Linked DNA regions of Homo sapiens. The protein of the gene in region 1 binds, or shares a complex with, the protein of each later gene. Each region holds a gene or a part of one and is shown on either strand. Other genes may lie near its edges. The genes, in order: FBXL13 and DRC5.

What was found.
Region 2: FBXL13 (region 1) and DRC5 share a complex: the UniProt entries of both Homo sapiens proteins name them as parts of the nexin-dynein regulatory complex.

What each region holds. Positions count from the first base shown.
Region 1 is NC_000007.14:102,886,026-102,889,844, reverse strand, and holds part of FBXL13 (F-box and leucine-rich repeat protein 13), read left to right. Parts: intron 1-3,819. UniProt on the Homo sapiens protein: Substrate-recognition component of the SCF (SKP1-CUL1-F-box protein)-type E3 ubiquitin ligase complex.
Region 2 is NC_000006.12:44,283,881-44,287,699, forward strand, and holds part of DRC5 (dynein regulatory complex subunit 5), read right to left. Parts: coding exon 3,669-3,819; intron 3,400-3,668; exon of another isoform or gene 3,310-3,399; intron 2,653-3,309; coding exon 2,084-2,652; intron 1-2,083. UniProt on the Homo sapiens protein: Component of the nexin-dynein regulatory complex (N-DRC) a key regulator of ciliary/flagellar motility which maintains the alignment and integrity of the distal axoneme and regulates microtubule sliding in motile axonemes.

The DNA.
Region 1 (3,819 bases):
TATGTTTTATGAAAACCATTATTAGAGATATTAATGTTAGGGTTATGAACTAAGGTCTGGAATGGGGGGAATTTAGAATTGTCATAAAAAACAACAAAGGATGAGCTCTTGTCCTTTGCAGGGACATGAATGAAGCTGGAAATCATCATTCTCAGCAAACTATCACAAGGACAAAAAACCAAACACTGCATGTTCTCACTCATAGGTGGGAATTGAACAATGAGAACACCTGGACACAAGGCAGGGAACATCACACACGGGGGCCTGTCAGAGGGTGGGGGACTGGGGGAGGGATAGCATTAGGAGAAATACCTAATGTAAATGACGAGTTGTTGGGTGCAGCAAACCAACATGGCACATGTATACCTATTTAACAAACCTGCACGTTGTGCACATGTACCCTAGAACTTAAAGTATAATAATAATAATAAAAATTAAAAACAAACAAAAAACAGTTCTCAAACCTGGGGTTGTGTGTCATAATAGGAAGAGGTGGCCTCTAGCCCTGGCTCTGCCATTGCTATGTGACTCAAGATAATCCATTCATTCATTCATTCAACATTTCTGGAGCACCCACTCTGTGTCAGACACTATGTTCAGCACTGGGGCCACGTTGTGAGGAATAGATAAAGAACCTGTTCTCCGATCACACAACTTCTCTGAATCCCATTTCTTTGTTTGCAGTAAGAGGGCTGCACCACAATGAGTTCTCAAGACCCCCTACTCCTGCTTCTTGATTCTTTCCCATGGGAGCAAAATGTGCCCAGAAGAACAATAACAGGAAAAGTGATAACAATATTACATGCCAGACATTATGCTAGCTAATCACTTTTATATACATTGCCTCATTTTATTTTCTCAAGAATTTCCTAAAATGGGTATTATTATGCTCATTTTCCAGATGAGGAAACTAAGAGTCGAGAGGTTGAGCTACTTTTTGTTATAAGCAAGAAAGAGGTAGAGCCAGACTCAAAACCAGCCCAGCTAACTCCAAACCCAGCATTCTTCTCTCCTCCTCTGTTCATGTTTTGAAAGGCTCATTCCTCTCCCCTGGACTTTGCTCTGGGCTACTTATAAAAAGTTTACTCAAGAATTCATAGCAGTACAAAAAAAAACAAAAACAAACAAAAAAACCACCTCATTCTTGCCTTACCAGTCTTCTACTAGCTTTCCCTCCTTCCTTACCTACTCAACTTTTCTTATTCATCCCAAGAGTGATCCTGCCACTTCAGCCAAGACCAGCACTCCCACTGCTTTGCCTCCACTTGTGCTTACCTTCCACCTGGAATCTTTTTCTTTTCTTTTATTTTGAGACAGAGTCTCGCTCTGTTGCCCAGGCTGAAGAAGTGCAGTGGAGCAATCTCAGCTCACTGCAAGTTCCGCCTCCCGGCGATTCTCCTGCCTCAGCCTCCTGAGTAGCTGGGACTATAGGCGTGTGCCACCATGCCTGGCTAATTTTTTTGTATTTTTAGTTGAGATGGGGTTTCACCGTATTAGCCAGGATGGTCTCAATCTCCTGACCTCGTGATCTGCCCACCTTGGCCTCCCAAAGTGCTGGGATTACAGGCGTGAGCCACTGCACCCAGCCTGGAATTCTTTTCAGTCTTGTCTGTTGCCAAACTCTGCACTCTTTCCCAGACTTTATCTTACTCCTAAATTTAATTCATTCATCCCCTCATAGTTGTCCAACACAGTAGGAAATTCAAAAAAAGAGTACCTGAACATCTCTTTGAAGGAAAGTAAGGCACACACGGATTGCAGGAAGAGTTATAAAGAGTCGTGGGCCATTTATTAGTTAGTGTTTCCCTGAAAGAAGAGGTCTATGGTAGGAGATGATTCAAAAACTGTCCAAGGGCTTCCTTACGCTATCTTTTCCCCAAAGATGCCTTTTTCTGTTTCTCTTTTTTTCTGACTATACATGGTCACTGTAGAAAATTTGAAAACTATCCACTCTTCAGAGATAATCACTATTAGCATTTGGTGTATTTCCTTCTGTGATGGTTAATTTTATGTCACTTTGGTTAGGCTATAGTGCCTAGTTGTTTGGTCAAACACCAGTGTAAATGTTGTTGCAAAGGTTTGTTTTGTTTTTATTTTTGAGATGTGATAAACATTTAAATCAGTAGACTTTGAGTAAAGTGGACTCCCCTCTATAATGTGGGTGAACTTCATTCAGTTGAAGATGTTAAGAATAAAGACAGGTCTCCAAGACTGAGGTTTCCTGAAGAGGAAACAATTCTGCTGCAAGACTTGCAATGTAGAAATTCTGAGTTTCTAGACTACCAGCCTGGTATACCAATTTCAGATTTGCCAGCCCCCACAATCACATGACCAATTCCTTAAAATACATTTCTCACTCTGTCTCTTTCTCTCTCCATACACACACATACACACACTTGGATGTTTGTGTGTGTGTGTGTGTGTGTGTGTATGTATGTATATATACTTGGATGTAAGTATATCCTATTGGTTCTGTTTCTCTGGAGAACCCTGACTGATATACTTTGTTTTTGTTCTTCATTTCCTCCCAGTTAGCACTTTTCAAACTGTCATGTCTGTGTGTAAATCACCTGTCTTGTTCAAGTGCAGCCTCTAAGTCAGTAGTGGTGGGCTAAGATTCTGTACTTTGAACAAGCTCCCAGGTGATGCCTATGCTGCTGGTCTATGGACCACATTTTGTATAGCAAGGCCTTATATAATTAACTTTTTCTTCATGAAATAATATCATGAGCTCAGTTATTCTCCTAAAACATTAACTTGTAACTGTATTGCACCCCATCATACGAATTGCCATAAATTTGTTCAGGCTTTAGAAACATATTTCCCAAAGTCTTTTTAGAAAAATTATCCAAGTATAATCCCACCCAAAGGCCTGGCTTCTGTAGCACAATAGAAAAATACTAGAAATGTAGAAAAATTGTCCAAATATAATCCAACCCAAAGGCCTGGCTTCTGTAGCAAATCAGGCCTGCATGCTCAGCCCCTGGTTTCAAGGGCTTCCCTTAGCATTTTTTCTCTTTTCTTTTTATTTCAATAGCTATAAAAATTCCTTTGGCTTTTGTCTGGGTGCTCATATTATTAGTGTCTGCTGAGAAGGGGAACCTACTGAATAGACATGGTTCTCAGAAGCCATTCATACATTCCTCCATTTATTCATGTAATAATATTACTCAATTATCTCATCAGTTGTTATAGGCACCATGCTGGGAGCTGTATACAGGGGATTCATTTAATAACTAATCAATCATAAAATGAATATAATTGTAGTTATGATAATTACATGGTGATGTAAGTATATAACAAGAAACTGGTCTAATCTAAGGGTCAGGAACACTTCCTAAGGAAGTGACATTTGAGTTGAGCTCTGGTTGTCCTGGGGCTATGACACTCAGTTCCCTAACTTTTGGCTAGTCTTTTCTGAATAGGTGGAGGCTCTGATGACAGAACCTTGGAAGTCACCTTTAGTGAGAGGTGGCGCAAATGAAGTCTCCAAAGGTCTCCCTAGAGGTCCATTGTAGCTGCTGCTCCTCATTGTCCCTGTCATACTCTTCTGGAGATGACCCTTCAGGGGAGTTCCCCTTCTGTCTGCTTCTGGGCAGCATCTCAATTTCCCTTTACTGAATCTGAACACAATCTGATTTCCTATCTGTGTCCATTTGTTACAGGAAATGCAGTCTAAATAACAAATTATCTTAAGGTAATTCATTATAGGCAAATATTTTGATCTTTGAATCAGTCATTATTTCGGACACTCTCTGCCACTGGTCTTTCCATTAATGTGGATAATGATAGTTGAAAAGAAAGAAATCGGTACTACAA
Region 2 (3,819 bases), on another chromosome or scaffold:
CTCCTCTTGCCTTCTCAGTCATTGAATGGGAACCTGTCATTTTCCTGATACCAAGCACTGACTTATTGGTCTATGAACCCGTGCCTCTCTTCTACATTCATCCCCTTTCTTGCAACTGGATGGAGCCTTACACTGGTTTTAAACATATGTGAGTTATTCTGAAGGAACCCAAAGCTCTCATCGGTTATGGCTGTACCTTTTCCCCTTCGCAGCCAAGTTCTTGAAAAAGCTGATCACAGCCACCCATTCCTCACTTCCCACTCTCCCCAGAAACCACTGCTATCTGGCCTCTGCTCCTGCCACTCCACTGAAATAGCTCCCCCTCAGTGACCTCCATGTTCACTAAATCCAGTCCTCAGCTCTATTCCACCCCGTTGCTCACTCCCTCTACTTGAAACATACCCCTCCCTTGCTCTGTGACACAATGCCATGTTTCCCCATTTCCTCCTCCCTCTGGCTTCCTGGCAAGCTCTTCTTCTTCCACTGAGACCACATGCCAGGCCTCTTGTTGTCTTGCTTTTGGCTCTCCCCTGTGAGACTCCATCCAAACCCAGGGCTGCAACTGCCACCTTCATGAAGATGGCACACATTCCCACATTCAATTCAGACCTCTCATCTGAGCTTCGGACCCTCTACCCAACTAACGAAATGACCCCTTCTTTGAGATGCCTCAAACTGAAACTTACACTCTTCCCCCTCAAAACTGATCCTCTTCCCACATTCCCTGTCTCTGCACATGGTCCCTCCAGCCATCCAGCCTCACAAGCCAGAGGTCTTGCACCTCACCTCCTTCTCCTTCCTTCTCCTTCAGATCCTCCCTGTGCCAGTGTGGCCAGGTGCATGCCAGACACATGTCTGCCTAAATATGTGTTGACTCTCTCCACTCCTTTGAGTCTCCACAGACACTACCCTCGCTGAAATGACCCTCACCCTCACCTGGATTTGGCAGTGATCTCCTAGGTAATCTGCATGTCCACTGCTGCCCTGCCCAGGCCATCCTCCCTCACAGACGGAGTGACATTTTCACATGTGAAATCCAGTAATGGTACCTACTTTTTTGCCTAAAACCCTTGGATGGTGTCCCAGAGCTCCTAAGGATAAAGATAGCCTCCTGGACAAAGCCTCCTTCACCCAGCAAGGCTGACCACCTCACACTCTGCGCCAGCCACACAGTCTTCTCTTTCTCTTTGAGCTGGCCATGTTCACTCTGCCCATAGAGCCTGTATGCACTGCTCCCTCTGTCTGGAACGCTCCTCCCTCTGAGACTGTAACTCGTCCTCCTCCTTCTAATCTCTATGTAAGTGACATTTGTTCAGGGAAGCCTTCCCTTGCAAGGTCAAATGCTCCTTTACAATCTCTCATAAGAGTATCTCTTCTTTATAGCATTCATCCCAATTCAGGGGTACCAGAAAAAAGTACAGGATGCCCAGTTAAAAATAAATTTCAGATAAATAAGAACGCCCCATGGAATATTCGGGACATACTTATAAAAATTCTTTGCTGTTTATCTGAAATTCAAAATTTTTGGAGACAGGGTCTCATTTTGTAACCCAGGCTGGAGTGCAGTGGTGTGATTGCAGCTCACTGCAGGCTTGAACTCCGAGGCTCAAGGGATTCTCCTACCTCAGCCTCCTCAGTCTCTGGAAGACTACAAGCGTGCCTGGACCTGAAATTCACATTTAACTGGATGTCCTGTATTTCTATTTGCTACATCTGGCAACCCTATTCTAGTATCAATTTTATGTTTATATGATTGCTGATTAGTGCCTTTATCCCATCAGACTGTTAGCTACAGAGGGCACAAATGATAATCTTGCTCATCCTTGAATCTTCAGCACCTAGGACAGGGCCTGGAGCGCAGCTGTTTGTTCAATGAAACCAACTGGTGAACTGGGAGAGCAGCGCCTTGTTCATCTCTACACCCCCAGAACCGTGTATCTTGGTGCAGGGTGCATTAAAAAACACTTGGCCAATGAAAGAGAAGGAAATAGGAAGAAGGCAATAATAGAGGAGGAAGAGGAGGGGAGAGGGAATCTGAGAGATGCTGAGAAGGGGTGGGGGGAAGGCTGGGAGCAGACAGTACCTTGAGGGTGTGGCATGCCTTGATGGCGGCTGCCAAGGAGAGGCAGTCACGGTAGGTGAAGAGGAAGAGATTCCACTCGAAATTCATGCCGCAGTCCTTGACATCGTACACCAGGTCCAGCTCCTCCAGGTGGCTCAGGCCAGCTACCAGATCGCCCAGTTGGTAGTGGTCAACGGTGGGCTCCTCCATCTCTCCCTCGCTGCCTGAGTCGGACTGGTCGCCCGGCCGGAGCTGGGCCGGGAGCTGCACCGGCGGAAGGAACTGATCGACGTGGACCCTGCGCACGTAATTCCGGCAGAGCGGCAGCAGGTCGAGGATCACCGCAGGGTCTGTGGTGCCTGGGATAAAGTGCTTTAGCAGGTTCTCCAGGTGCCGCTCGAAGAACATGCGTTTCCAGCTGCCGCCATGGTGGGCCACGTGGCACACGGGCCAGCGATGCATGCAGCAGCGGAGCCAGTAGTTCTCACTGTCTATCAGGTTGGCGGTCACAGCCAGTGGTAGGTCAGGGGACAGGTGGTTCAGGACCTTCTGCTGGTGTTCCGGGAGCATCTGCTTCAGGATAGGGTTTTCTTTGGGAACAGAGGAAGGAGCGCAGGGGGTCACAGTGTTGGGGGACACCTCAACATGATGCCTCAGGCTGGGCCTGCCTGGGAGCACCAGGCAAAGGAGAGACCCTTCCCTGCTTAGGGGATAGACAGCCTCTGCTCTCAGGGGGGCTCAAGCAGAGGGTGGGACACAGCCTTTAGCTTTGGGATGTTCCCTGCCTGAAGGTGGACATCTCAGCATCTGTTCTCAGGGAGTTCCCAGACTGAGGAAGACTCTCAGGTCCAACTCTCAATTATCACCTGGTCTGATGGGGGATACAATCCCTGAGGTCAGAGGCTTCCAATCTTATTTGATTCATCCATTTCAAAACAAGAAATTTTTTGAGCACCTACTATGTGCCAGACACTGGAGGTAGCACTATGAGAGACTACTATGTCCCACGTGCTGGAGATAGAAGAGTAAGCAAACAGGGCTCTCCCTTTTGGAGTTTACATTCCAGTGAGGGGAGGCTGACAATAAACAAGTAAAATGAGTGAGACTGGGTGATGATAGTTGCTGTAGATGAAATAATGGCCCTGTCCTCAGACAGCGCCCCATCTGGTAGGAGAGGCTGGCAGTCCATCTTTGGAAAGGATCAATATTACAGAGCACAAAATATGGAACAAACCAAGAGCCCTTACATGGCATGGAAGACTCCATCAGAGTAGAGGGCGGTTCACTTGGGAAGGCTTTCTGGAGGAGGAAGTAGATATGGCTCAGGCTGGGTTTTGCTGGAGAGAGTAGAAAAGGCAAGGAGAGGGCAGAGGCATGGAGGGTGCAGTGTGGGTGGGAGTCTGGTGGGACCTGCCAGTGGGAACAGAAGGAGAAACTGTCTTGGCCCTGGGTGGAAGGGAAGTGTTGAGTGGGTATGAGGATGCCATACGGGAGAGCAGGGGCTGCCCCAGGACCCAGCTTCTGCAGTCTTGGCTCCGGACAGTCCCCACCCACCTAGCCCCCCTCTTGGCCTTCTCCTGCCCACCTAAAGCAGGGACAGACTCACTCTGGAAGTTCCTGATAATGTGCTGAATGCAGAGCTCTGTGAGGAGGGGCACGATGGCCAGTGACCACTCAGGATCCTCAGCAATGATCCGGCGCATCCGACGGATATTGGCCCTGGGATGTGGGTTCCTGGACTTTGCAGGGACTGGTGT